7 linked regions of the Homo sapiens genome follow. The protein of the gene in region 2 purifies or fractionates together with the protein of the main gene of each other region. This does not show direct contact. Each region holds a gene or a part of one and is shown on either strand. Other genes may lie near its edges.

What was found.
Region 1: the proteins of CKAP5 (region 2) and FYB1 purify together in Homo sapiens (tandem affinity purification; one study listed by IntAct). This does not show direct contact.
Region 3: the proteins of CKAP5 (region 2) and SCIN fractionate together in Homo sapiens (co-fractionation; one large-scale study listed by BioGRID). This does not show direct contact.
Region 4: the proteins of CKAP5 (region 2) and DDX31 purify together in Homo sapiens (affinity purification with mass spectrometry; one large-scale study listed by BioGRID and IntAct). This does not show direct contact.
Region 5: the proteins of CKAP5 (region 2) and INTS7 purify together in Homo sapiens (affinity purification with mass spectrometry; one large-scale study listed by BioGRID and IntAct). This does not show direct contact.
Region 6: the proteins of CKAP5 (region 2) and SLAIN1 purify together in Homo sapiens (affinity purification with mass spectrometry; one large-scale study listed by BioGRID and IntAct). This does not show direct contact.
Region 7: the proteins of CKAP5 (region 2) and TAP2 purify together in Homo sapiens (affinity purification with mass spectrometry; one large-scale study listed by BioGRID and IntAct). This does not show direct contact.

Annotation. Positions count from the first base shown.
Region 1 is NC_000005.10:39,104,499-39,108,628, forward strand, and holds the end of FYB1 (FYN-binding protein 1), read right to left. Parts: intron 3,765-4,130; coding exon 3,733-3,764; intron 2,968-3,732; coding exon 2,945-2,967; 3' UTR 754-2,944; downstream 1-753. UniProt on the Homo sapiens protein: Acts as an adapter protein of the FYN and LCP2 signaling cascades in T-cells. May play a role in linking T-cell signaling to remodeling of the actin cytoskeleton. Modulates the expression of IL2. Involved in platelet activation.
Region 2 is NC_000011.10:46,836,000-46,840,223, forward strand, and holds part of CKAP5 (cytoskeleton-associated protein 5), read right to left. Parts: intron 1-4,224. UniProt on the Homo sapiens protein: Binds to the plus end of microtubules and regulates microtubule dynamics and microtubule organization. Acts as a processive microtubule polymerase. Promotes cytoplasmic microtubule nucleation and elongation. Plays a major role in organizing spindle poles.
Region 3 is NC_000007.14:12,626,011-12,630,234, reverse strand, and holds part of SCIN (scinderin), read right to left. Parts: intron 3,652-4,224; coding exon 3,436-3,651; intron 1,135-3,435; coding exon 1,013-1,134; intron 1-1,012. UniProt on the Homo sapiens protein: Ca(2+)-dependent actin filament-severing protein that has a regulatory function in exocytosis by affecting the organization of the microfilament network underneath the plasma membrane.
Region 4 is NC_000009.12:132,663,105-132,667,328, forward strand, and holds part of DDX31 (ATP-dependent DNA helicase DDX31), read right to left. Parts: intron 314-4,224; exon of another isoform or gene 268-313; intron 223-267; exon of another isoform or gene 121-222; coding exon of another isoform or gene 118-120; intron 1-117. UniProt on the Homo sapiens protein: May have DNA helicase activity and RNA helicase activity. Probably have ssDNA and RNA dependent ATPase activity. Plays a role in ribosome biogenesis and TP53/p53 regulation through its interaction with NPM1.
Region 5 is NC_000001.11:212,024,977-212,029,200, forward strand, and holds part of INTS7 (integrator complex subunit 7), read right to left. Parts: intron 707-4,224; exon of another isoform or gene 585-706; intron 1-584. UniProt on the Homo sapiens protein: Component of the integrator complex, a multiprotein complex that terminates RNA polymerase II (Pol II) transcription in the promoter-proximal region of genes.
Region 6 is NC_000013.11:77,756,521-77,760,744, reverse strand, and holds part of SLAIN1 (SLAIN motif-containing protein 1), read right to left. Parts: intron 1-4,224. UniProt on the Homo sapiens protein: Microtubule plus-end tracking protein that might be involved in the regulation of cytoplasmic microtubule dynamics, microtubule organization and microtubule elongation.
Region 7 is NC_000006.12:32,835,598-32,840,454, forward strand, and holds the start of TAP2 (antigen peptide transporter 2), read right to left. Parts: upstream 3,143-4,857; 5' UTR 3,056-3,142; intron 2,641-3,055; 5' UTR 2,637-2,640; coding exon 2,144-2,636; intron 2,055-2,143; coding exon 1,940-2,054; intron 177-1,939; coding exon 46-176; intron 1-45. UniProt on the Homo sapiens protein: ABC transporter associated with antigen processing. In complex with TAP1 mediates unidirectional translocation of peptide antigens from cytosol to endoplasmic reticulum (ER) for loading onto MHC class I (MHCI) molecules.

The sequences.
Region 1 (4,130 bases), on a different chromosome or scaffold from region 2:
TGCACAGTGGGAGAACTTAAAGATAAAGAAGAGGGATAGCCAGAGGGAGGCAGAAAAGGAGAAGGAGAATGGGAAAGAATGAATTGTAAAAGACAAACACTCCAGAAAAGGCAGGAAGAAATGGGATCCAAAGGTTATGGCTTTGAATTTAAGGCATGACATCTTATTCTCTGGGACAGTGTCTGGATATGGGTTAAGGTCAAAGGTTGTAGGGAATTGAAAGGAATTGCGTTTAGTTATCTTAATTTCTGACACAAAATAGGAGTCAAAGTATTAGGAGTCTTGGTAGAAGGTTTGGTCTTGAAGAGGAGATATCCCGTCTTCTGAGGCTGAAGCTAGAGTCAAGGTTGGATGCAGAGAAAGACTGTTTTGTAGATGTAGGATCAAGTTAAGAGAGAGGAAGCCTGATGGCCTCAATATTAAAAAAATATATTTATTTCTTTTTTTTGAGACAGGGTAAATTTTTTTGAGACAGTGGCACAATCATGGCTTACTGCAGCCTCGACCTCTCAGGCTCCAGTGATCCTCCCACCACAGCCTCCTAAGTAGCTGAAACTACAGGCATGTGCCCCCACACCCAGCTAATTATTTGTATTTATTGTAGAGACAGGGTTTTACCTTGTTGCCCAGGATGGTCTGGAACCCCTGGGCTCATGAAATGTGCCCTCCTCGGCCACACAAAGTGCTAGGATTACAGATGTGAGGCACCGCATCTGGCTAGCCTCAATTTTTTTAATGAAGTAGGAGGCAAGGTTATCCATTGAAGGTATTATTTATTTGCAGCTCATCTTAAGTGACAAAATTCCATACAGAAGACTATAACAGAAATCATATTTAATATATTAAAATTAATACTTCAAATATCTTTCACATTAAGATGATTATCTATTGTGTAAATCTTTCCTAGGTATGTGTGTCTGTTTCTTGATGTGTAAACCAAAACTCTGAAATATTCTCTTGATCTAACTTTGACTTTTAAAAACTGACATTGTACTGAATTTACATAATTCTCAATCAGAAAAAAAATTACTGTCAGACTGCAATGCAAGTCTGCCCCAATGAAGGCAGGAGGAGGGATGGCTGGAAGTGTCTCAGGGCACTCTGAAAGTTTAGCAAGCTTATCAAGGAGTCCTCAAACTAAAGCTGGCCAAAAACTTCAGCATAAAAACTATCCTGTCTGTGTATTATATATATTTATTACCAAATTTAATAAACAAAAACCACTTTTGAACCAGGTAATTTTATCTAGTGTGAAAAGAAATTAATCACATGGTCATATACTGGCTAGTGCTCTCTAAAAGTAGACATTAAAATATTTCATAATTGGAGGGAATCTTTGGAGATTAGTGGCATCTAATCTTGGGGCCTCAGACACCCAAAATCTATATATTGACCAGTGGAAGTTGATGATTTGTTATCAAATTTCAAAGCACCTAATGGAAACCCCACTTCATCTCTGTGAAGATTTTCAGTTCCTTTACAGTTATTTGAAATTATTTCAATTCTGTGGAGCCACTTCAGAAACTCCAATGGGCCTTTGCAATATTAAAATGTGGAGAATGCATTAATCATTATTTAATCAATGAGTTTAAAAAATAGACAAAAGCTTCTGAAACATGGGACTGAAGTAGGCGGAGCATTATAAAAGCCTAAGGTAATTGGTAGTGAAGAGTTGGAAAAACTTACTTAGTCTAATATTGTAATTTACAGATAAGGAAACTGAGAAGATAAATAATTTATTCAATATCACTCGATGGTTCATTAGTAGAAGAGCCAGCATTATGATGTACTCATTTTGTACTCTAGGAGTTGTTAAAAAGCACTTAATATCTTCTTTTCTTGGGTGTTAGCATTTTTCATTTTTTAAATCATGCTATTTAGTGTTCTTAACATTTGAAACCCAAATGGTTCACATTTTGTTTTTGGATTGCTTTGGGAATGAGTATGTACTGTTAGAGAAGGGCCCAATCCAAACACTAGAATTTTAATAATTTCTACTCCCTCTGCTGGCCAACTTTCCAGTAAAATGGATTTTAAAAAAAGAGAAAAAAAAATCTAGCGGTAATTGAAACAAAAACAAAAACTTTAAAAAGTGTCTTCATTATAAAGAGGTGCCATGCATAAAAGCCTAGGTAGTTTCAAGGTCCATTCTTCCATTCCTCATGATTTTAGGGTTATCCTCATTCAGATCTACTCTAGTTATAATAGTACTTTAAACAGAGCACAGAATTAAACCATTAGTATGTGAATCTGCAAAAAGAGAACTTGTTTTAGACTCTTCTACAGTTTAGACTTCAATGTGCATACTAAATGCATAACATTCGTATCAAATAATTAACATTTATATACAATTAACAAATAAGGACAAATTTTATACAAAACTTCTACTACTGCTATAATTTTTGAAAACATTTAACCCACTAGCAAGAGGTAAGACAGCACTGCCTTTTTAAAAGACAGGTCACTTGAATAGAGAATATAAGATATAACCATAAGTAGAAGTATAAACAATAATTTTTCTTCTTGTGGAATGTTTTTAAATTTCCTTTCTTATATTATTATTCTTCCTTAGGTTTTTTTAGACAGGTCATTTCTTCCTGAATGATTTTCCTTTTTCTTTTATTTTTATTTTTTGAAGGAGGATTATTTACTGGTGGTCTAAAAGAAGTACCTTCAACTTCTTCATAATTGTAGCCAAAGCGGAAATGGAATATTTAATAATTCTTACATCTCACTAATGTAGTCTTCTGAGTTAACAATTAAGCAGAGAGATTATTTTCTATGTTCAAACTTTAAACACTTTGTAAAGATAATTGGGATTTCATAACAAATGATAATAAGTGGTTTTGTGCATTAATTTTCTTGATACCCAATAACATGCCAATTAAAATCCAGACTTCACATTGGCACCTAATGAACACAGCAGAATGACCAAAGTTGAGTGCTAGTCATTGTCATAGATGCAGCCTGAAAGGAAAAAATACAAATTTAAATATAGTTATTAAAAACATATTCTCTAAGTATTCCAAGTTTGGAAATGTGGGTGATTCATACTCTCCTGGTTAAGGATTAAAAAAAATAGAACTGGCTCACTTTATAAAAAATGAGTTAAATGGAAGATCATATATTTAACTTTTATTATTTAGTATATAATTCAACAAAATTTCTGGACAGATTTATTCTCTATTAAAATGAGACTCAAGATTATTTTATGTGGCACTTAGTCATATACTTTTTGGTAGTCACTCTGAACGAGGTTGAAGATATTAAAGAGCAAGACTCATAAGTTTAAAAGACTAAAGGAAATCATGATCAACACTGCATCATTTCAGTTAGATTAATTTTTTAGATTACAGTTTGGAACTATATGATGCTTAGAGAATATTGGTATTACTGGTTATGAAATAAGTACCTATTTATTTGCCAAAAATGTTTATTTGCTTGGATAAAAGAAATTCTTATTATGAGTCACAGTACAATAAAAAATTTCCCAAATATTTTTATACTTCTGTTTTCAAAGAAATAAATAAGGTTTTTCCTTAATTTTCCATCTTGTGGGAAATGCGGTATTTTCCCCCCATTATGCCAGGGCATTTACCTTTTCTAACATTTTCAAGTGATTCAAATTCTGATCAGATTGGAAGTCTCTAATCCAACAAGCTATTTTTAGCATTTATAAAAACAGTAAATTCACTATGACTGTTCTCTAGGGTGGTACTACATAAGACTTACCATCAGCAATATCATCATAGATCTCTCCATCACTGTAAATGTAAAAAAAAATTTTTATTTTAAAGAAACTATGTTCTTGGCATTAGAGCAATATATAGAAGAATAGAGTAACAGTATAATTTTATAAGACACAATTAAGACTTTTAAGCATAGTATGCATTTATAAGTAGAAATAAATTTGATATTCATTATCTCTTCTTTCATTGACTTAATCTAGTCCTCTGTTTCATTTTACATACAGAATAATTAAAACATGCTTCAAGAGCATAGACTATGCCTTACTCATCTTTATAAGACATGTTTGTTAACAATGTACTAAACATCATGGTACAATACTCCCATTGGGGATGTTAATTCAAAGCTGCAATGGACTTTTATGTCTGTTAATATCAGATTCA
Region 2 (4,224 bases):
ATATCAGACAAAGACAAAGAGAAGGGCAGTCTACAAAACAACTGACTAGTACTCCTCAAAATGGTCATGGTCATGAAAACAAGGAAGGACTGAGAAATTGCCAAAGACCAGAGAAGGCTAATAGAGATGACCACGAAGTGCAATATGTTACCCTGAATTGGATCCTGAAACAGAATGGGCACATGAATAGAAAAACTGTTGAAACACAAACAGAATCTGGAGTTTGTTTAAACGATGTTAATAACAGGGCACACTGGGTGAGAGGTATGCAGGAATCCTACACATCATCTTTGCAACTTTTCTGTTGGAACAATCTATAATTATTCCAAAATAAAGTTAATTTTTAAAAAGTTTCCTCTTAAAAAACTAACATTTATTTTCAAAAAAGGTAATGTCGTGAAAACGAATAATTTTAAAAAGTGAGAACACTAGGTCAGGCACAGTGGCTCAAACCTATAATCCTAGCATTTCAGGAGGCTGAGATGGGAGGATTGCTTGAGGCCAGGAGTTTGAGACCAGCCTGGTCAACACAGTGAGACCCCATCTCTTTAAAATAATAATAATAATAAAGTGGGGACACTACATACCTACCAGAAGGGCTAAAATCCAAAAACCAGATAGAACTAAGTGCTGTTAAGAACGTGGAGCAAGAGGAACTCTCATTCATTGCTAATAGGAATGCAAAATGGTACAGCCACTCTGGAATAGAGTTTGGCAGTTTCTTACAAAACTATAACTAGTCTTACCATATGATCCAGCAACCTGCTTCTAGGTATTTATCCAACTGAATTAAAAATTTATGTCAGCTGGGCACAGTGGGTTGTACTGTTAATCCCAGCACTTTTGGGAGGCCAAGGCAGGAGTTCGAGACTTTTATGACATAAAGAGTGAACTTTAATGTATGCAAATTTTAAAAAGTCATTTAGGAGACTGGGAGATTGCAGAAAAGAATGAAGACTATGACAAGGGAATCTATATTACAGATGTGTGAAACAACTTCACCAAAGGGGGTGGGAAAAAGGTTCTGACCTAAGTAGCTTTGGTAATGAGTGGAGTCTGAAAGATTAAGGGCAAAAGGAACTGCACAGAAGTATGTACTCTAGTTGATAAAGTTTTTTTCATGGAGTATGGGTTAGCAATTCTGATACTGCTATCCATGTATGTATATCCATATATAATGGAACTGGACAATTAAATAAATGGATGGTGGAAATTAGGTTTTTCACTATTGTGAATGGAAATTCAAAGATCAGCAAGGGGAGGAGGCTAGAATGATCTATGTGATAATGGATCAGAATTGGAGACACCAGTAGGAACTCATGTTTTTCCCCCCCGCCCATACTACTGAAAGTGATCTATGGAACTCGTTTAACTTAATATAGACACAGATGGCTACATAGAGAAATATTTATAGATATGTCTATATACATGGGGTTAGCATACATTCATATATTTCTTTGCTCTAACAGTTGAAAGGACCTAAAAGAAATGACACCCCAGTAGCAAAGAGAACACTCAGTACCCAGGTCTTGTTTCTAATAGCATTCTCCAATAAGGGAACCAGGGCACCTTGGGGAAATGGCTGATTCTAGCACTGGGACAAGAAATACACAAGATGAGCCTGGAACATTTCCAGATAGTAAGGAAGTACTCAAAGATCAATACAAATACGCGCACACACACACACATGTATGTTAAAGGAATACAGGAAGCTCCCAAAGGACAAAGCTGGAACAACCTGAACAACAAAATAATGTAATATTGGAGTGTAACCTAAAATATAAAATAAATATACTTGAGTCCACACTATTATCAGTAAATACTTGACTAAACTAATAAATGGGAAAGGAGAGACAAGAATTTCAAATAAATTAAGTAGGTACTCCACCCTAAGATCAAGGAACTCCCCATTCCTTAAGTGTGGGCTGCAAACAGTGACTTCCCTTCAAAGAATACAGTATAGAAAAGGAGGGGAAAAAAAAGTAAATTCACTGTAGAAACCTCACAAACACTATTTCAGGTCAATATGAACAGTCAAGGTCAATATTAAGTCATAAATCATGTTGATAGCATGTACCCTTGATATGATGTGATGAAAATGGCACTTTACCTCTGTGGTCTTCCTGCCCAAAACCTGTAACTCCAGTCTAATGAGAAAAACATCAGACAAATTCCAATAGAAGGACATCTTACAATGTATTTGACTAGTACCTCTCAAAACAGATTAAAATTTTTTTAAAAAATTCAGATGTATAATTTTTCTAGCTTTCTTAAAGACTTTCTGAACTAGTCTAAAATAATTTTAAGACTAATTGAGACTGTTAAGATACTGCTTACACCCAAAAACACAGGAACAAGCCTGGTGCAGTGGCTCACACCAGTAATCCCAGCACTTTGGATGCTGGAGCGAGAGGATTGTTTGAGGCCAGGAGTTCAAGACCAGCTTAGGCAACATACTGAGACTGTGTCTCCACAAAAAGAAAAAAATGACAGCCAGACACGGTGGCTCACGCCTGTAATCCTAGCACTTTAGCACTTTGGGAGGCCGAGGCAGGCAGATCACTTGAGTCCAAGAGTTCAAGACCATCCTGGGCAACATAGTAATACCTTGCCTCTTCAAAAAAAAAAAAAAAAAAAAAAAAAAAAATTAGCCGGGTGTGGTGGCACTCGCCTGTAGTCCCAGCCACTAGAGGCTGAGGTGAGAGGATCCCTTGAGCCCGGGAGGTGAAGGTTGCAGTAAGCAGAGATCAGGCCAACACACTCCAGCCTAGGAGACAGAGTGGGACCCCATCTCAAAAAAAAAAAAAAAAAAAAAAAAAAATTGCTGAGCCACCATTGTCGCAACATTTTTAGAATATAAAAATAAAAAAAAATAAATAAAGACACAGAAACACAGCCAACTGAATAGTCAGATACTGTTTTTATCACTTTTTTGTTCAGAGAAGATGATGCCAGTTTTGGCCAATTTTGTTCAACAAATATTTTTGACCACCTAGTTTGTTGCAGGCATTGTTGAGTCACTGAGGTAACCTCAAAGGAAAAAAAAAATCTATGTTCTGCTTTCATTTTTATGAGAAAATCTAACAATATATAGACAAACAATAAACAATTACATAACAATATATGCTATGAAGTAAATAAGGAAAAGTGAAGTAAAAGTGACCAAGAGGGCTCCTCTAATTCAGAGCTCAGAAAAGTGTCTCTTTAAGGAGATGACATTTAAGTTGAAGCCTGAGAGTGCCAGTAATACAGGCTGGGGGTAGGGGTAGAGTGAAGTGAGAAGTTCCAGAACAGAATGCAAAGACCGAAAAGAATAAGCGTAATGTGTTGGAGTTATACACATCAAGTAGGTAGAGTAACTGCCCTGATAGAAATGAGCTAAGTAATGTATTCTAAACTCCAGAGGCAAGAATAGGAAAATCATTTAAAAACCTTAAAACTCTCCAACATTGACTACCAAGAATCCTAATTAGATTAAGAACTCAATTTTTATGCGTCCCTTTAGCTACCCACCGCCACCACTGTCACAGTTGTCCATCTTCCATATGGTAAATGCCATCTTTCCTCTAAAAACTATCATGCCTGTCATTCATATTTCATCACATCTCCGATAGAAGTACTTTTTTAAAAGGGGCTGGGGGAATTCTACCCAGAAATTGCTCCTGAATTCTCCTACAGATCCCTACTTCACGTAGTACAATCATAGGTTAAGAGCAAAGGCCCTGGAGACAGACTGACTTGGGTTTGAATTCAGATTCTATCACTTAGTTCTATGATTTTGAGCATGTTGCACAGCCTTTTAAAGACTCAGTTTCCTCATCTGTAAAACATTGTGAGGATAAAAAAAGATAAAATGTAGCGGGACATGTTGGCTCATGCTTGTAACCCCAGCAATTTGGGAGGGTAAGGAGGGCAGATTGCTTAAGCCCAGGAGTTTGAGACCAGCCTGAGTAACATGGCAAAACCCCATCTCTACAAAAAATACAAAAATTAGCATGTGCCTGTAGGCCCACCTACTTGGGAGGCTGAGGTGGGAGGACAGATTGAGCCCAGGAGGTTGAGTCTACAGTGAGCCATGATCACACCACTACACTCCAGCCTGGGCGACAGAGTGAGATCCTGTCTCAAAAAAATTAATTAATTAATTAATTAAACAAAATGTGGGACCCAGTAGGCATTCAATACATGTTAGCTACTGCTAGTAAAAGTATCTGGGCATGTATT
Region 3 (4,224 bases), on a different chromosome or scaffold from region 2:
CTTTTGGTGTCATCCCATCTCCTGAACTTGACTGGGCTCAAGGCACTGGGCAGTGTGGATGACCAGACTATGGGGATGCATGTGACTGTCTCGGTGTGAGGTTCACCAAAAAGAAATGTCACCATATCAGCAGAGGACTGAATGCATCTATATTCTATATACCTATTATAGGTTGTTATCACTATGTAGGCAAAGGTAGGCGTCTGCCCTGCCTTTGTACCTTACGCCCACAGCCCACATTTCTCTGCTTGAAGATCTTTTTTAAGAATTATTTTCTTTTTTCCAGCCGTCTTAGCAATATTCTATTTTTACCTGATTTCACTTAATAAAAAGTTAGAGAATTTCACATTATATAATTTGTTGCAGAATCCCTATCCCTTGACATATCCTAGCATGGTGTATGCACATAAATTACTTGGTTGGACATTTGATCATTTCCTCCTTGAGCAGGGCATTGGCAAATTTAGACTTCAATTAAATCATCATGCAAAACCATGTAATATGAAAACACAGTTGCATATTTTTTCCATTATTCTTGTGAATTTAATGGAAACAAGAATAAGAATTGCATCAAGTTGAGGTATCAGTGGAATCACAAATTGTATCTCCTACAGGTTTTGCCATATTGCAACTTTGCAGTTCCAATTAGGATGGACCTCTGTGAATTTTAACCATAAGAAACCATGGTACCTGACACTTGCTGTTGCAGTGTTAACCTGCATACAAGATGAGATATTCAACTACATATCCACTAGGAGAACATCACTGGTTTAGGATATCAAAACTTTTTGCCTAGACTAGATAGCATGATCTTTATGTGACTCCTGCTGCCTGTGGATGGCAACTGCAAAACATAGTCAAAATCATGTAAAAAGAAAATACTATATGCATGCTATACAAATCTCACTGGGATGATTATAGGATTATTCTACCCCATAATGCATAGAATTTAATACTTTGGAGCAAAATCTGGCTCCTGTGGAACTCGAGATCTTTACCCGTATAAACTCACCACGTGTAGATAATCTGTCCTCTGGGATAGGTGTAGAGTATGATGTAGCAGTCACCACCATAGAATTCACCATATGAGTTTTGGTCAACTTGGATCCTACCATTGTTTTCTACACGCCAAATCTGGAAGGAATGGAATATATACAACAAATTACAATTTTCTTGATCTAATAATATTTCTCATAAGCTTTAAATAATTTTTGGTTCAAATCCATTATTAAACAACTTTTAAATTATTTATTAACTAGTTTACAAATCAAGCAAAGAAATTGTTATCGATTTGCCAATTTATTGACATTTTAACTACTTTTATGTGTCTTTTGCTTCCTCTACAGTATTAAGCTCAGTTCCGAGCCCATTGATTAATAAATACTTATTGTTTCATCTACTAGTGGAAATAACATGACACTCCAGTGGAATAAAAAACTGCAAGATTCAGCTCAGAAATATATATCTATTTTATAGTTAATTTTTTTCTTCAATTATGAAATAACATATATATATATTTTTTTCCCTGTGCTTTAAGATAGCGGACTATTATTTTCCCAGGCAAAACTTGATAGACTGTGACCAAATACTAAAAATGCTACAACACACTGAATGTTTGAGTCCCTCCACAATGTATGTTGAAATCCTAACCTCCAGTGTGATGGTATTAGGAGGTGGGACCTTTGGGAGGTAATTAGGTCATGAGGCTGGAGCCTTCATGAGTGAAATTAGTGCCCTTATAATCAGAAAGCTCTCTAGCTCCTTTTCCACCATGTGAGGATGCAGCAAAAAGTCTATGAACCTGAAAGTGGATCCTCCACCAAACACTGAGCCCATCAAAACCTTGAGCTTAGACTCCCCAGCCTCCAGACTGGTGAGAAATACATGTTTCTGCTTAAACCCCCAATCTATGGTACTTTTGTTATAGTAGCCTGAACAGACTAAGACCATGCCAATAATATGACTTCTGTTTTTAAAAGGTGCCATCCAGGAATAAGACCGAAATGTGATGCTGGGAGAAAAGCAGGCAGAACCACTTTCATTCTGCCTCCTCATCTTCAGCACAGATTAAACACCCTCCAACTTGGAGAGATGAGAATTGTAGATGAAACAGGAGAGTAACAAACGAAGGAGAGGCTGCCAGGCACTGTGTGTGTACATGCAAGCAAACACACACACACACACACACACACACACACACACGCGCGCACACTTGCCTAAGTTCTCAGTTGGGAAGGGCAGACTCTTTGCTTTGAAATCTGAAGATAAGCAAGTGGACAGGAACAGTGCAGTGCTTCTAGAGAGAGGCCACCCCATACTATCCTAGTGAGCAGAAGCCTTAGATCCTAGAGAGAGCACAAGATCCGAGAGAGAGCCCCCAGATTTCAGCAGCCCTAGGATGGCACAGGAGAAGGCTGCAGCCAGGACACAGCTGGTGCTGGGGACCAAGTTTGCCAGGAGGGCTGAGCTCTGGCAGGAATGTCTGAGCAGGAGACAGATGCAGACCCAGAAGTCAATACCCCTCTGACAACAGCCATGAGGGACATTTGTGACCTTCTCCCTTGGCACTTCCCACTCTCCAACACCCATGCCGCTTAGATTCACGCTTCACGTCTTTGAAAAGAGGAAAAATTATTTCCCTAATTTCTTGACCATATACTTTGGTCCAAGAATTGTAGTAAGCCCTAGGAATATAGAGATGAAATATTTCATTCCTGTCCTCAAGGAATCGATGAGAGCTCTAGGAGAAATCTGGCAGTAAATGAACAACTCTGTGGTAGGTATATGATAAATTATGTGAGAAGTATCGCTAGAGGTTGAGCACAGAGAAAGGCCACTTCAGCGCTGAGGGAAGCCTTCTCAGAAAAGGTATGGCTTGTGATTTAACTGAGTTGCCAAGGAGGCGTAGGAACATTAGCTAGATGGCAGAGGGGAAGTCAGTCCTCAAGGCAGTGGAAGGGTGAAGCCAAGATGACGGAAAGGGTCAAGGGTCCAGCTGAAGATGGATCTTCTCAGGAAGGCTGTGGAGAGCCATTAAATATGTATAAATATATTTAGATATACATTTATAAATATATATGTATATATACACACAGATATATGTGTATATATACACATTTATGTGTGTGTGTGTGTGTGTGTGTATACACACATTTCTCACTCTGTCACCCAGGCTGGAGTGCAGTGTTATGATCTTGGCTCACTGCAGCCTCCACCTCCCAGGCTCACGCGATTCTCATGCCTCAGCCTACCAAGTAGCTAGGACTATGGGCGAGCTCCATCACACCTGGCTAATTTTTGTATTTTGAGTAGAGGTGGGGTTTCACCATGTTGGCCAGGCTGATCTCGAACTCCTGTCCTCAAGTGATCTCCCCCACCCTCCCCCTACATACACTGGCATTAATGGGCTTGATAAAAACAAAAACAGGTAAATACCTCCACTTTGCCAGAACCATCATCCACCATATTGTGCTGGGCTGCCATCTGCGGAGAACTGTGTAATTTTGAGGCATCAAAGGGAATTTGTTTTATTTGAGCCACTTTCTCTGTGACATAAACTTTCCCGAAGCCATCACTCTGATCTTTATCTCTCCAGTCCTTAAAAAACTGTTTGAAGATTGGTGTTTCACCTCCTTCTGGAAGAACTTGAATCTGAAATTTAAAATAATAATAATAGTAAACAGGAAAATAAGAAATTAAGGGAAAATATGAATCTGGCAGTGGAGACAAAAGTAAGGAAATGGAAAATTATCCTGGTTTAGCTATCAAGCTCATATAATCCAAAATTGCTTTTTCTCACAACTAAAGTAATTGCCGCTGAATTTGAATATTTGAGAGAAGAATCAAGTTCTTTAATATGTTACCCCTGCAGTAAAATAAGTTTGTCTTTCTACATAAGGTTCACAAGAGCTCTGTGACCTGGAAGAAATGATCTCATTGTGTTCCTTGTGCAGGGACATAAAAATGAGGAGAGTAGATGAGGCTGAGAGATTCGGAAAGGAAAGGAGTAACTAGCCAGGGTCTAAATTGATTTCGATGAAGACAAATATCATCTGGGTTTCAGGCCAAGTCTGCACAACTTGCTCTAAGGAATAATAACTCTTAAGTGCTCTTAGCTAAACCTACTGTGGTTTACTATCTTGAATTAAAGGCTGTGGAGGAAGTGAATGGGCAGCTCTATGGAAAGTCTGATGTGCAGTTTCTAAAAAATTCTAACCCCCACGC
Region 4 (4,224 bases), on a different chromosome or scaffold from region 2:
GGGGGAAAACGAATCTTTTCTCTCCACCAACAAAGCACACTGGAGACCGCACAGGAGAGAGGGGCGAGGGGGAATGCGCATCTCAGCCCGTGCCCAGGAAGCGGAAACATTCATTACCATTCTACCCTAGCGCCTGGATCTCTCTCATTCTCTCCTCTCAAGCTGCTCCTCCAGATTCAGACGGCCTGGAGAAAATTCCTACGCCCTGTTCCCATTCCAAATGAGAATGCTGCTCCATCCATCACCTCTACCACAATTACTTCCTACCTCCCTTGCCTTTCGAGTCTCTGAGTCCCCGAGTCTCTGCCTGATTGCGGATTACAGGCTACACAGCACTAGGGATCTCTTGCCTGTTGCTTCTTATTTCCATTACAGGAATGTGCTTAAATGCATGATGTCCAAACTTCCCCTAGGAGAAGGAACATCCAATTCCTCTATTTTCTTTGGCCTTCTTTTCTGATTTACAAATGAATATAAAAGCATCCCTTGAGTAGCCAGTGCTTGTTATTCTGGAGTTTTGGGTTCTCTCAGAATATGTTATTTTCCTCTTTGCTTGAAATAATGACTTGGTTTTACATGTCGGCTTTCTTTAGCCATGACTGTCAGCTTCAGACTAACCTACCAATAACAACAGTTCTTTGTTCCCTAAGGATTCTTTTACCTAAGTAATTAAATACAACTTCAAATATCTAATATTAATAAAGTAAAAACGGACATATTCCATCTTACAAATTTATTTTTTACAAAATCTCAAGTTTATGAATTTTCAGATTAAAGAAAGAGATGAAATCAAGTTTCAGGTTTGTTGAATCATTTGCAAGACAGTATGAAATGTGCAGACTTCACCTGATTTACAGACCCAGGACTCCTGGAGCACAAAAACTCTTAAAGGCCACTCCCGCCATACATGGACTTCCTGACAGTCCCGGGCAGGTGGACTGGCAGCCTCTCCCTGCACACCTCCTGCATCCCATGAGGCAGCCCATTCTGTTCATGACCCATTCTAGGAATCAGGAAGCTGTCTCTGACATTTATGCAAGATCTGCATCCTTGAACATCTACCTAATAGTCTGAGGTATACTTTCTGCAGCAACACAGAACAAGCTTACTTCCTCTTAACACATAACATTCCTTCATATATCACATAACTCTCTTTTCTTTCTTCTTTGGACTCAATATTTCAAACAGGACACAACTTTAGATCCTTTATCATCTTGGTCACCCTTTATTCCTATGTCAACATCTCTCTAAAAGCAAGTACTCAGAGTTAAACCCATTAGGTTTTCCATTGCTCTTAGGCTGAACTAAAAAATCTGTAATATTGCCAGGTGCCATGGATCATGCCTGTAATCCCAGCACTTTGTGAGGCTGAGGTGAGCTGATTGCTTGAGGCCAGGAGTTCGAGACCAGCCTGGGCAATATGGTGAAACCCTGTCTCTACAAAAAAATACAAAAATTAGCTGGGCATGGTGGTGCATGTCTGTAGTCCCAGCTACCTGGAGGCTAAGTTGGGGGCATCACCTGAGCCCGGGAGGTCAAGGCTGGATTGAGTCGTGATGACGCCATGATGCCACTGCTCTCCAGCCTGGGTGACAGAGTAAGACCCTCGCTCAAAAAAAAAAAAAAAAAAAAACTGTAATATGATCAACAAAGCCTTCTAGAATCTGACCTCTGGCCACCTCACCAGCTTCAGCTTTACTCTCTGCCACTCGGGTCTTCCTTCAGTTCCTAGAATGTGCTGTGCTCCTTCCTCCTCCTTTGCACATGCTACTCCCACATCCAGGACTCCACTCTGCCCTCTGGCTGGCCACCCTGTACTCATCCTTCAGATGGAGGCTGACCAACTCCTTCCTCAGAAGAGCCTTTCCTGACCTCTCTTCACCCAGTCAAGCCAAGGTGCTCTGTTCTTGGCTCTCCTGGCACCCGTATTCTCCTCCATAGCATTCGACAAAATAATAAGCATAGCACGGAACTCGTTGTTTTATGTCTGTCTTTCCCGTTAGATTGTAAGCTCCACAAGAAAGGGGCCAGTCTGTCCTACATAGCACTGTATCCCCTGTATAGGCCCCTGTCTGGCAGAGTAAGCACTCAACAAATACTTGTAAGATGAATGAATAACACACAATGGAATTATCCCTTTCCACCAGCTGGATACGGTTCTACTACTTGTTAGCTTTTCTCCCCCAGCATCCAAAACACATTCATTTAGCAGTTGTCAAGAAGCTTCGTTCTGAAGATACAAAGTAGATTTGCCAAGCCCTTGAGGAAGTTACACACTAGCAGAGGAGACAAAAGTATAAAGGCATAAATCCAACCTCTACATTGGTGCTACAGAAGAGGTACATAAAAAAGGCTATGAGAGCACCAACAAAAGCTAGACTAACATGGCCTCCTTCTGGCAAAGGAGAGGGAGGCAAGAAAACCAAGAATGCTTCGTGAGGTAGCCTCTGAGCAGAGAGGGAGCAAGGACATATCTGAATCTACTAAAAATTACTACTAAAAATCTAAAATCTACTAAAAATCTACTAAAAAATTCGTTTGAGTCTCTGTTGCCGCACCTGTAAAATGAGGGGATTTTGGCAGATGACCTCTAGGGCCCATCAAGACCTGAGAGTCTAAGATGCCATGGCTTTGATATTAATAAACATACTGAGTAGTTACTATATGCCAAGGAGTATACTAAGTACTCACATGTATTCTCTCATTTATCAACACAGGTACTGTTATCATCTCATTTTAAGATGCAAACATGGAGGCAGAGATGTGACGTAATTTGTCCCAGAATCACTGAAGGAACCAGGCTTTCCCCAGGCATCATGATTCTACATTCTAGAGGCCTCACAACAATACTATAATCCCTTTTATTAACTGCATCCTCTTTGCTTTAGAAAACATGTGTATGCTGGAAACTTACTCTTTCTGCTCAACATTATAGTTTTGCCTTGTATAGTCTTAATCCACATGGATTTGGTTTTTTATACATAGTGCGAGATAAGGTTCCAATTTCAGTTTTTAAATTCACACAACCACACAACCAATTGTTCCAGTGCCACTTATTAAAAATGTCAGCTTTTCCTAAGCAATTTGCAGTGTCATCTCGGTCATGAATAAAATTTCCATTTTTGTATTGGTCTGCTTCTGGGCTCTCTTTTCTCCTTTGCTGGTCAATTTGTACAGTTTTGCACCTTATTCCAGACTGTCTGAAGAAATAGAGCTTCATAATAATTCTTAATTTTTGATAAGTTAAAAAAAAAAAAGAAAACATCATGTGTAGTGATTCCAATTTTGAGTTGTTCTCTAAAAGGACATACACCAAAATGGCAACAAGCATTGTCTGAGTATGGCAATTATGAGTGGGTTTTTAAAAATCTTTTTTCCTAATTTTCTATAATAAATTTGTATTAATATCAGAAATTTTTTTTTGTTTTGCTTTTGTTTTGAGACAGTCTCACACTGTCACCCCAGCTGGAGTGCAGTGATCTCTGCTCACTGCAACCTCCACTGGTTCCTGGGTTCAAGTGATTCTCGTGCCTCAGCCTCCCGAGTGGCTGGGATCACAGGCACCCACCACCACACCCAGCTATTTTTGTGTTTGTTTTTTGTTTTTGTTTTTTTTTTTTGAGACAGAGTCTCGCTCTGTCGCCCAGGCTGGAGTGCAGTGGCGCAATCTCGGCTCACTGCAAGCTCCGCCTCCTGGGTTCACAGCATTGTCCTGCCTCAGCCTCCCGAGTGGCTTGGACTATAGTCACCCACCACCAGCCACCACACCCGGCTAATTTTTTGTATTTTTAATAGAGACGGGGTTTCACTGTGTTAGCCAGGATGGTCTCGATCTCCTGACCTCGTGATCCACCGGCCTCGGCCTCCCAAAGTGCTGGGATTACAGGCGTGAGCCACTGCGCCAAGCCTTTTTTTTGTATTTTTAGTAGAGATGGGGTTTCACCGTGTTGGCCAGGCTGGTCTCCAACTCCTGACCTCAAGTGATCTGCCTGCCTCGGCCTCCCAAAGTGATGAGATTACAGGTGTGAGCCACCTCGCCCAGCCCAGAAAGTATTTTTAGAGAGAAAATTTCTGCATAGTGTTAGATACAGCATAATTTAAGCTGTTAGTCTTTCTAAATCCAGTATATTAGCTACCCATCTCAAGTTCAGGCTACTGGCAAGTCTCATCAGCATATCCATCATTCTCATTCACGACATCAATGAAAATGTAGATCTAGGCCTG
Region 5 (4,224 bases), on a different chromosome or scaffold from region 2:
CAACTAGACTTTACTAATTTGACTCTAAATGAAACTAGTATTCACTCACATGTGGTTTCTGGACTTTGTCTATCAAACGTGTTCCCTGTGAGATGTGTTCTTGTTATTCTCCCTCTCTAAACATTGTGAAAAAGGCAGGGAAAATTCTTTCTGTATGGTAATAAACTGCGTGATTTGTGAAATCATACCTTATTTTAACCACATAAAACGATCTCAAAATCATTATGCTGAGTGAAAGAAGCCAGACCTGAAGGACTACACTTAACTTACTGTATCATTCTATTTTATATGACATTATGGAAGAGGCAAAACTATAGGGATAAAAAACAGATTGGTGGTAGCCAGGAGCTAGAGAGAGGGAACTGACTGCACAGGGGCATGAGGAAAGTTTTTGGGGTAAAGGAAATATTCTATGTCTTGACTATGGTCATGGTTTCATGACTGCATACATTTGGTGAATTTTATCTGATACAAATTATACCTCACTAAATCTGATATTTAAAAAATTAAAAAAAAAACCCAACCAAGAAAAAAGAGTTAATATTCAATTTTCTAAAAAATGCATTAAGAATTTGCCCTTTCTTATGCCCTTTTAAGGTTGATGTGGTGCTTTAAGAAGCTAACATAGAAGGATAAAGTAAGTCTCTACAAAACCCAGAGAAGAGACTGGAAAACTCCTCTCTGGATCCTGCCTGGAGTCACAGCTGTACCAGGAAAAAAAAAAAAAAATTCACTAAGAATGAATACCTTGGTAAGGATTTAACAGCATCAATTTCAAATGTCTCTGTTTAGTATTTTACCAGTCACAAAATGCTGATTATGTCCTCACAGGAATAAGTATCTTAGAATATCTCTGTCCAGTAACCTTTGATTATTCTTAAAAAAAACAACAAAGGAGGCCAGGCACAGTGGCTCATGCCTGTAATCCCAGCACTTTGGGAGGCCGAGGCTGGCAGATCACCTGAGGCCAGGAGTTCAAGACCAGCCTGGGCAACATGGTAAAACCCCGTTTAAATACAAAAATTAGCCCAGCGTGATGGCAGGCACCTGTAATCACAGCTACTAGGGAGGCTGAGGCATGAGAACTGCTTGAACTCGGGAGGCGGAGGTTGCAGTGAGCCAATATCACGCCACTGCACTCCAGCCTGGGTGACAGAGACCCTGTCTCCAAAAAAAACAAAAAGACAAAGGAAATCTGAAGGCTTTTCCTAGTTGCCACAATGTTTCATACAAAAGACAACCACAAAGTAAAACTGCATAGGTAATTTCTATCATTTACTAATGGGTGATGTTCCGTAATGCACTCATGTTAGTTATTCAGTACTTAGAACATTATTTCCTCATAGGAAAATAATAGCACTATCGGCACTCACAGTACTCTGGAACCTAATAACCATTTATAATAAATGTTTCTATGGGAAAATTAATTAACATTTCTAACTGAGATAGAACACATCCCTCCTTCATCTGCTCCCTCCTCCCCTTCACCCTCTTACACACACAAAGAACTGCCTCTGAAGCTCTAGAAATCCTTTTCCTATCAAACACAACGCCAAAAGGGATAATTCTAAGTAGCTGGCAGTGTGGCTCATGTAGCCTTACTTTTCTAAAAGCCTGATATGAAAAACGGGTCAAGGGACACACAGGGCAGAGAAGGGGAAAGACATAGCTGAGGATGGAGGTGAGAAGGAACAGAGATGTGTGCTTACGTATATGTGTTGGCAAAGGGGTTGAAAAAATCCACAGTAATTGGATTGTTTCATTTTCTTCTCACTGTCAGTAGCTGAGTTAGATACAAAGGATGGTAAAGTTCTGTTTGTAATGAATTAACCTTGGCTGAGATGAAAAAGGCATAGTAGGAAACAGCCTATGTACAGGTAGTCTCCTTGACAGAATATAATCATGTTTTATCTTCCCTTGAAAAACAGAACCAAAGACCATATTGATTTGTTTAAACATGCTGATTTAAAATGTACCAAAGATTATTTTGAATGAAGCGAGAGAATGTTTTGATTTATCTAATATCATCAAACTTTTTTCTCTGAGATAAAATAGACTCTCATTCCTCTGTAACAACGCCACGGGGTAAATGAACTAAAGAATATTAAACCTCTTCTGTATTTTCTGATGTAAGAGCCCTCCTTAGGAAAGAGGTAGTGAGAATTCAGGCTGGCTCCGAAGGACAGGAGCTAAGGTGAAAAAGAAGGAAAAAGTGCTTTAAAGGCCTATTACTTAGCAACAGCCCTGGGTTGGGGTAGTATGGTACTCATCTTGCTTGCTCTAGGCCAATTTTGTAAGCACTGGAAAACAGGAGCTCAGCACGTTCCAGTTCTAGTATAAGAGGGGCTAGACATTTTATTTGTATTGCTTGCTACAGGAAGAATGCCCTGGTCATAAGACCACTAATCATAAGAATACTACTGTAAGCCCAGAGATAAGATTAAGAAGGAGGGATGTGATTGCTATACCTACATTTTATTTTGTATTCTTCCACCAAAAAAAAACAAAAACAAAAACAGATCTCTCTTCCTTTTCTGTGCCTGGACTTAAACAGTGCTTAACTCAGTTGCAACATGCATGTAGACCAGGGAAACTAAAATAGGCTGTAAAATCATTTATTCATTCAAAATTCATTTGGCAGTAGTAAAGCATTCATTATTCTAACATTATTTCGCACTTAAAGTGTGCAGAGCTTTTTGCCAGGCTAGTGGTTTTCAGCTTGGTTCTGCATCAGCAATATCTGCTAAGTTTTTGAAAAATATCTATGCTATGGGTTTTACTCCAAACCTACTAAATATATGGGGCAGAGTCCCAGGCATCTGTTTAACTACTTTGAAAAGGTTGGCATCGAGATTCCTTTTTTTTTTCTTGAGACAGTCTCACTCTGCCGCCCAGGCTGGAGTGCAGTGGCGCAATCTCAGCTCACTGCAACCTCCGCCCCCCGGGTTCAAGTGATTCTTGTGACTCAGCCTGCCGAGTAGCTGGGATTATAGGCGTGCACCATCACACCTGGCTAAGTTTTATATTTTTAGTAGAGACAGGATTTCACCATGTTGGCCAGGCCAATCTCAAACTCCCAACCTCAGGTGATCCTCCCGCCTCAGCCTCCCAAAGTACTAGGATTCCAGGCGTGAGCCACTGCGCCCAGCCAGCACCTAGATTCTCAAGTTAACTTCTGCCACTTGATAACTTATTTAACTAGCCTGCCCACACTGATTATACTGGAGTTAGAAAACTACTAGGCTGCTGAATTTGGTCCTCAGAATGCTTTTATCTGGCACAATGTTTTTAAAGGTTTCGAACACACTGTCAAGTTTTACAAATCATACTTCACATAAAACCCCAGGATCTCTGGTTTTAGAAAAGTAAAAGATCTAAAATCTTACTGAAGAAGGTAGAAGTGTCTGACCAAAGAAACATAGTAGTACTGCAGAAACATTACAGTACTGCAGGTCCATGTTGAAGGTCAGTGTAGATTCGGCTCCCATTTATGATGATAGCCATGTACCCCACTGTATGACTTTCTGCAGCAATTTTTGACTGCCTTTGGGGATACATGAGTAGAATGGAACCTTGGATGTGAATTTAAAGTACTGGTAAGAAAGTAAATGCAGTTAATAAAATGAAGGACCATGAAATCTAAGCTGAACAAAGAAGTAAAACAGGTACAGAAATGTAGAGAGGTGAAATACCGAGGTCTGAATGAAAATAAAGACTAGCCAAAATAGCAGTTAATCATAATGATAATGATGATACACATGAAGTGCTTATTCTGTGCCAGTCACTTTAAGCACTTTGCATGTATTAAAGTCTCACTAAAAATCACATAAATTAGGTACCATTATTTTCCCCATTTGAAAGGTGAGGAAACAGGCACAGACAAGCTAAGCAATTTGCGTAAGAAACAACAATGCTGACAAATGACAGAGCTGGGATTCAAATTCTGGCAATGTAGCTCCAAAGGCTATAGTGCTAACCACTATGCTAAAATGCATCTCTAGCAAGCAACTAGAAAGAAAGAGATTAAGATTCAAGAATGAGACATTTAAATTAGTGATTAAATGGTGGAATTCTGAGGTGATGAATTCTAGGGAATTAGGGGAATACCATAAATTATGGTAAACTTGGGGTTTGGGATACACATTAATCAAGTTTTCAAAACAGCACAAATCTCCAAGTAGCATCTATCAGCAGTTCTTAGCTGCAAGCAACAGAAGCTAACTC
Region 6 (4,224 bases), on a different chromosome or scaffold from region 2:
TTATGCCTGAGAGTACAATATACACAGGAGGAGAAAAACAGAATATAGGTTCCAGACAGCACTGAGAAATGGAAAATTCTAATCCTTGACAAAGATCTCCTGGTCTGTCCATCAGCCACATTTTGGAGTGCCTGGCTATATGCAGAAGCCAGTTCTAAGCACAGCCTCCTTTCCTTTACAAATGTGATGATGTCTGAGTTCTCACAAGAGAAAGTCTTCCCCGTTTGCTTGCTAGACATTAGGATTTCTTGATGCTTGCTTTGGTGGTGGTTCCAAGAAAATAAAATGAGGAGATACTTTAATAGTTGTAATTACAGAAAAGAAGACAAGGTGGTATCTGTAGGTACAAACAGTTTATTACAGATATATTCCTTAAATAATATTCATTATGTCATTTATCTATCTGAGTTGCTGGGCATTATTACATTTATAATAGTAGCAAAACCTATAAAATGAAGGGCACTGGGAACTCTCTGGATAAGAACCCTTAAAAATTTCATCAATATACTGATCCAACTTTGTGTATCATTTCACATTAAAAGTAACAAACTGGTAGGCAGAAGTTTTTAAATTTTTTAATCCCTTTCTCCAAGGAAAACAATCAAATTTAATAGAAACTTATGCACAGAATTCTGCTTACATACTAACTACCCAAGCCTTTGATGCCTAGTACTGGCAACATGGTTAAACATGGACATACCCTGTTTTCTAAAACAGTTGAATTTACTTAATCATGAAATATATAAATACTTTTTTGAAATAAATATAAGGGGGAAAAAGACCCAAAAAAGTATCTATGGTTTTATTTATCATCTCTTGAAAATATTTCCTTAAAAATAGTTTTTCCTTAAATTTTTTTTCCTTAAAAAATGTGTTTAATTATACAAGGCAAAATCTATACACAGAAATACTGATACATGTGCTATCAAAAAGATAACACATCATGATCAAGCAGGTTTCATCCCAGGGATATAGAAATGGTTTAACATAGGCCAATCAGTAAATGTGGTACATCACATAAACAGAATTAAAAACCAAAACTATATGATCATCTCAACAGATACAAAAAAGCATTTGATAAAATCCAGCATCCCTTTATGATAAAAACCCTCAACAAAACAGGCATACAAGGGACTTACTTCAAAGTAATAAAAGCGATATATGACAAACCCATAGTCAACATCATATTGAACGAGGAAAAGTTGAAAGCATTCCCCCTGAGAAATGGAACAAAACGTCCTTCACAACAATGTCCACTTTCACCATTTCTAGTCAACATAACACAGGAAGTCCTAGCCAGAGTACTTATAGAAGAGAAAGAAATAAAGGGCATCCAAATTGGAAAAGAGGATGTCAAACTGTCACTGTTTACCAATAATATGATTAGATACCTAGAAAACCCTGAAGATTCATCCAAAAAGCTCCTAGATCTGATAAATGGATTCAGTAAAGTCTCAGGATACAAAATCAATGTACACAAATCAGTAGCACTGCTGTATACCAACAACAACCAAGCTGAAAATTAAATCAGGAACTCAATCCCTTTTACAACATCTATAAAAAATAAAATAAAATACTTAGAAATATACTTAACCAAGGAGGTGAAAAATCTTACAAGGAAAACTACAAAACACTGTTGAAAGAAATCACAAATGACACAAACAAAACACATCCCATGCTCATGAAATGGAAGAATCAATACTGTGAAAATGACCATACTGCCCAAAGCAATCTACAGATTCAATGCAATTCTATCAAAATACCATCATCATTCTTCACAGAACTAGAAAAAACAATCCAAACAATCCTAAAATTCATATGGAACCAAAAAACGGCCCACATAGCCAAAGCAAGACTAAGCAAAAAGAACAAGTCTAGAGGTACCACATTAACTGACTTCAAATTATACTACAAGGCTATAGTTACCAAAACAGCATGGTACTGCTATAAAAATAGGCATATCGACCAATTGAACAGAATAGAGAACCCAGAAATAAACCCTAATACTTACAGCCAACTGATCTTCAATAAAGCATACAAAAACATAAATTGGGGAAAGGACACCCTATTCAGTAAATGGTGCTGGGAAAACTGGCAAGCCACATGTAGAAGAATGAAACTGAATACCTACCTCTCACCTTATACAAAAATCAACTCAAAATGGATCAAAGACTTAAATATAAGACCTGAAGCCATAAAAATTCTAGAAGATAATATTGGAAAAATTATTCTGGACATTGGCTTAGACAAAGAAATCATGACTAAAATCCCAAAAGCAAAGGCAACTCAAACAAAAATAAATAAATGGGACCTAATTAAACTACAAAGCTTCTGCACACCAAAATAAATAATCAGTGAGTAAACAGATAACTCAGAGTAGAAAAAAATATCTGCAAACTATGCATCTGATAAAGGACTAATAGCTAGAATCTACAAGGAACTCAAATAAATCAACAAGAAAAAAAACAACTAATCCCATCAAAAAGTGGGCAAAGAGCATGAATTGACATTTCTCAAAAAAAGATACACAGCCAACAGACAAATGAAAAAATGTTCAACATCACTAATCATTAGGGAAATGCAAATTAAAACCACAATGAGATACCACCTTACCCTGCAAGAATGGCCATAATTAAAAAGTCAAAAACAATAGATTCGGTGTGGATGTGGCAAAAAGGGAACACTTTTACACTGCTGGTGGGAGTGTAAATTAGTAGACCCACTATGGAAAACAGTATGAAGATTCCTTAAAGAACTAAAAGTAGAATTACCATTTGATCCAGCAATCCCACTACTGGGTATCTACCCAAAGGAAAAGATGTCATTATTTGAAAAAAAGACACATTCATACGCATGTTTATAGCAACAGCATTTGCAATGGCTTAGATATAGAACCAACCTAAGTGCCCATCAACCAACGGGTGGATAAAGAACTGTGGTATATATACACCAAGGAATACTACTCACCCATAAAAAGAAACAAATTAATATTTTGCAGCAACTTTGATGGAACCAGAGGCCATTATTCTAAGTGAAATAACTCAGGAGTGGAAAAGTAAATATCGTATGTTCTCTCATGTAAGTGGGAGCTTAGCTATGAGGATGTAAAGGCATAAGAATGAGATAATGGACTCTGGGGACTTGTGGGGAAGTCTGGGAGGGTGGTGAGGGATAAAAACTACATATTGGGTACAGTGTACACTGCTTCGGTAACAGGTGCACCAAAATCTCAGAAATCACCACTAAATAACTTATCCATGTAACCAAAAACCAGCTATACCCCAAAAACTATTGAAATAAGAAAAAAAAAAAGAAATGTTGATACATGTGTATAGTAGTCAAAAAGCTTTATAAAAATAAAGTCTATGTAAGATCCTCCCTTAGGTGTGTTCCCATTTAGCTTTGTGACACAGCAAAGTCCTCTTGGTTGACGAATCATCTCTAAGATTCTTTCTAATCAATTCTGTAATGCCTTAATTTGCTAGTTTTTAACCATGCAAATATTTAATATACTAGTTCAGCAACTGTAACAAGTCTACTGCACTAACACAAGATGTTAATAATAGGGGAAACTAGGAAGATACAGAGGGTGAGGGATTACATGGGAATTCTTTGTACTTCCTGTTCAATTTTTCTATAAACTGAAAACTGCTCCAAAAAAGTGTTAATTTTTTAAAAACCTTCAACACATGAATTTGGCTCAATTTCTTCTGAAGCATAATATACATAAAATACATACATCTTAAGTCTACAGCTCAGTGAATTTTCAAAGTGCATATGTTCATGTAACCACTAATCATATCAAGATAAAAAGCATCACCAGCACCTTACAATGCTCTCTCATGCCTCTTCCTAGTCAAAACTCCCCCAAAGGTAAGTGTTATTCCCACTTTTATCACAACAGACTGTTTTTCCCTATTTTGAGCTTCCTAGGAATAGACTTATTAGTATGTTAACCTTTTAATCTGGCTTCTTTCACTCGACACTTTGTCTGTGAGATTCACCTGTGTTGCTGTATTACTAAGCAGTATTCCATTGTATAAATGTGATTATTCCCCTGATGACAGAAAGCTAGGTTATTTCTAATTTGGGGTTTTATGAACCTCCTTGAACATGTTTTGGTGATCATATGCACTCATTATGTTGGGTAACTATTAGGAGATATTAATTTAGCAAAGTTGCTGGATTCAATATCAAAACACAAAAATCAATTATATTCAAAAT
Region 7 (4,857 bases), on a different chromosome or scaffold from region 2:
CAAGGGATGTCCATGGGAATCTCAGACCTGGACTCCAGGCCCCACCTGTCTTAGTCTCCTGGAAGAAACCGAGGTCCTGGCGCAGCAGGGAGGAGAAAAGCTGCTCCCGGATCCGCAAGTTGATTCGAGACATGGTGTAGGTGAAGCAGCCTCCTCGGCAGCCTGCAGACAGTGAGCTGTGGGGTAGGAGAATAAGAGGGGAGGGAGATGCAGAGAAGGAGCAAGCCAGCGGGTGAAACAGAGGAGCAAGCCAGGAGTGCAGAGAAGCGCAAAGTCAGGGGAAAGCATGCCAGGAGGGGCAAAAGAGAAAGAAATGAGAGACAGACACACAGAGAGAGAAGAGGTAAGGAATACACAGAGGAAGAAGAAAGAGGAGACATGGTGAGCTAGATGTGAGAACAAAATCATAACATGTACAAATTTACAAGTATTTATGGAGTGCACTCTGTACTAGACACAATAGAAAACTACAATAGAAGGGAAAAGATATTGTGAAAACAAGTATCCCAGTGCTTGCTTCTGTCCCAGCGTCCCTCAGGCTTGTCCCTCTGTGCGTCTCCTCCGCCTTGGTCTCCTTCCTGCCCCATACCCAAAGCCCTTCTCTGTCATCATAGATACTTCATCATGGGAACTGCAATAATAAATTCCCTGCCCCCACAATTCTCTGGAGCCCCAGAGTCATGTGATTCCCATCTTTCATCCTTCGAGTTGGAAAATCCCTCTTAGACCAACTACATGCTACAGTAACACTTAGAGGAAAAAATATAAAGCATAAAAGCATGTATTTTACAAAATATATGTTTCTAATACAAATTTAGTTACCATATTGAAGAGGCGTTTGGGAGAGTCAGACATGATATAATGAGGGTTTGTACTTTAATGACAGGGATGTGTTCTGAGAAATGTGTCGTTAGATGGTTTCATCGTTGTATGAACATCATAGAGTGTACTTACACAAACCTAGATGTCATAGCCTACTGCACACCTAGGCCATGTAGTTTAGCCTATTGCTCCTAGGCTACAAATCTGTACAACATATAACTGCACCTAACACTGTGGGCGACTGTAACACAGAAGTAAGTATTTGTGTATCTAAACATAGAAAAGGTACAGTAAAAATATGGTATTATAATCTTGTGGGTCCACCATCTTATATGTGGCCCATCATTGACCTAAACTTCGTTATGCAGTGCACGACTGTAGTTTCAGCAGAAAGCAGCCAGGATGGAATGAAGGCACAATGAAATGGTTTTCGAGGGTACTCTAAATTAAGTATGACCATAAAAATAGAGACAATCAGGCCGGCTGGGATTTGGGTAAGGTGAGTGCACACCTCCTTAAACTTTGCACCCCAGGTGCCTCGCTCACCTCATCCCAGTCCCAGCCTTATCAAACAGTTTGTTTGTTTGAGTATGTCTAGAAAGAGAAAGGAAAGCAAGTGAAGGGAAAAGAGTAATGATTCTGGAAAGAAAGGTGATAAGCCTCAGAGTAAGATCTTCAGGGACTGGCAAGATGAGCTGGGAAAGAAGAGTGAAAGGGAGAAGCATACCCATCCTGAGGGAGTGACCCTGGAGAGATACTTTGGAGACAGACTTAGGGGTAGGAGGTAGGAGGCAGAAAGAAATGGAATTTCATGGACCTAGGAATGTTGAGAGACAACTGAGAGACATTCCATCTGAGACTTAAATTCCTTTTGTACTACCTTCACTCATAACTTGTTCCTATAATAAGATCAGATAAACTTTGAAGATATTGGATGAATATGAACGAAGGAAGAAATGAATGGATAGATGAAACAGAATGGTGACTACATTCACCATATTTTAGTTTAAGTATTTTTGTGTTTTGCGCCTGAAAGGGCCTAGAAATGGAGTTAGGGAAGTGAAGACCCCTATAAAGATTTGGGGCTAGCAAATGGACCCAGCTGCCCACCACCTACCTGCCAAAGGAGAAGAGGCACATGAAGAAGATGGCACTGGCAAAGGCATGGGGGTCAAAATCACCTCCCAGGATGTCAATCACACGACCAGAATAGTGAGGGATTAATGTCTCACCTGAAAGAGGCATGAAAAATAACACAAGAATGTGCTGGTGCCCAGGCCCTTTTACCACCTCCAACTCACAACGTCCTCTCCTGACTCACCCAAAACAGCAAGGACAAGGAAGAAGAAGGCGGCAACGAGGAGAGGCAGGTCCGGCCTGGAGAGCTTCAGCAGCCTCCACATCAAGACTTTGTTGTTCACCTGGTCCTGCTCCTTCTCCTGGGCTCCAGGAGGGCTCAGAACAGCCCACAGTGACCAGCTGAGCCCCGCAGCCCCGTACCCCACCAGCAGCCAGCTCCAAGGGGCTGAAGCGACTCTGGCTGGGGGAGCACGTGAGGCCCCCGCGACCAGGGCTCTCAGGGAGACAGTCAGGGGGGTGGCCAGACAGAGCGGGAGCAGCAGTGTCCCCACAAATCCCAGCAGCCCTCTTAGCTTTAGCAGCCCCCACAGCCCTCCCAGCCGCAGGGTCCCCTCCAGCCATAGTCCTGGCAGCCCTTGAGGAAGCAAAGTCCCCAGAGGGCCCTGAAGCAGCCACAGTAAAGCCGCGTCCACCAGCAGCAGGGAGGTCCAGGGTCTCAGGTCAGGGAGCCGCATGGCTCTGTCAACGGATACGAGATGAGAAATCATGGGGGTGGAGTCCCAATCCTTGTCCCTGCCCTCCTACCCGCCCGGCTCCGCCTAACCCGTCCATCGGCTTCTCATTTTATCCTATTCAACCCTGAGAGCTCTCCTGAGTAACCGGTGCTCATCCGTACACCCCTCCTACGACAGACAGCTTTCGGCCTTCTGGGGAGCTGGAAGCATGACCATCAGGAGCCTCGTGCTTAAAAAAAAAAAAAAAAAATCCCCGGACCCCCACCCCCACCCCCGCCTGCCGCGGCGAGCTAAGTGGTCCGGGCTCCGCTCCCTCCTATCGCCGGGTGCAGAGGGACTGGGAAGCAGGAGCGTGGAGTGGGTAGTCACTTGGGCTGCGTCCCTGTTGGCGCTCCAGGTTCCCCTCCGCACCAACTCACCAGCCGCGGCGGGGAGACCGCAGCTCCGGGGACTTCTGCTTCAGCGCTGAGGTCCGCTCCGTCTCTCCCAACCTCGCTACCGGCTCTGGTCCGCCAGCTACGCTCGGCCAGGGCGGGCGTCAGGGCTCGGGCAGCTTTCGCTTTCGCTTCCCCAGCCAAGGCCTTCATTCTGGGCTGGGCCGCCGGGAGGGGGCGCGCGAGACCCGCAGACAGCGGAACTGGAGCCCGAACTCTGGTTCGCACTGTACAGGCCTGCAATGAGTCTCACTCGCCTTTAGTGGCGGTTACTCTGGGATATAAAACTGCAAAAATGTTTCTTTATCATTAAGTAAAATACAGTTGTCTCAAGGGCAACTTTATCTGTTGTCCTTGCTTTGTAATTGGAGAATGCTTTGTAATTGGAGAATCACTGAATTTTCTCAAAGTTACTACTTCAAGCTCTGAGCCTACTATTAAGAAGTGCCTTCTTTCTGGTCCGGCGCGGTGGCTCACGCCTGTAATCACAGCACTTTGGGAGGCCGAGGCGGGCGGATCGCCTGAGGTCAGGGGTTCGAGACCAGCCTGGCCAACATGGTGAAACCCTGTCTCTACTAAAAATACAAAAATTAGCCAGGGCGTGGTGGCGGACGCCTGTAATCCCAGCTACTCGGGAGGCTGAGGCAGGGGAATCGCTTGAACTCAGGAGGCAGAGGTTTCAGTGAGCCGAGATCGGGTCATTGCACTCCAGCCTGGGCGACAAGAGTGAGACTTCGTCTAAAAAAAAAAAAAGTGCCCTCTTCCATGCAAGCTCCAGTTTTAGGCGAGCGAGCCGGGCTCTCCTAAATAGAAGGTTCCAACCAATCTCACCAGGCCAAAGGGGATTTTCACGTACAGACTTTGAATTTAGTAGGCCCTGAGCGTTCATCTTCATCCGTCCTTCTCAGCCGGAGCACCTTGAGCTGGCGCGTGTTCAGGTGCCTCTGAGTCTGTACTCCAAATTATGTTGGGCGCACCTTCAGCCTATGAGGGAAATGCCCCGTACTGAGCTTTGGTTCTTGTTCTATTTTAACACTGTTTAGAACAGTAATTAGGTTTTTAAATATCCTTCCTGACCCAGAGCCTTCCTATGCAACAGAAAGATTCGTTTATTCCAGAAAGGACTCTTCAGATTGAAACCACCTCCCAAACTAAAAACAAACAAACAAACAAATTCCCCAAAGGAAGGGTCGCTTGGATTCCAGATCACCATTTTGAAATGTTACCTGTGTGACTACCAAGGAGTCACTTAAAGTTTAAAATAGTGGTGGTGGGGAGGAGGGATTTTAAGTAGGGGCTCGCTAAAGTTTTACAACTCTATTCATTCTGGCATTTTAAGAATCTCTCTCTAATGAAAAAAGCTCCATGCTCAAGCTCATGCTCCTACTTTCAAGCATTTGTTTCCTTTATTTTCTGGAAAGTGACATGGTCCATAGTTCCAGCATGATTCCGAAAATCTCATGATGTGTGTCTCTTTCTTCTAACCTGGATCTTTTACATTTTCCCCACACTCCTCACTTAGGGGAGTCCTCCTGATCTCTTCTTCCTCTAAAATTATAGTCCTGCCATCTTGCAATTCAGCATGACACATCATGAAATTAGACCCTTAATGTCTGTCTTTATATTCAATATCCAATATCTCCAAAGTGTTATTTGGGATAAATGGTATGGTGTTTATATGATTACCATATTAAAGTGAAGTGGAAGCTTTTTCATCCTACTCTATAAAGTCAAAAACAGTTATCCTAGGTGCCCTACTCCCTGTTCCTCAAACCATTAACAATGGA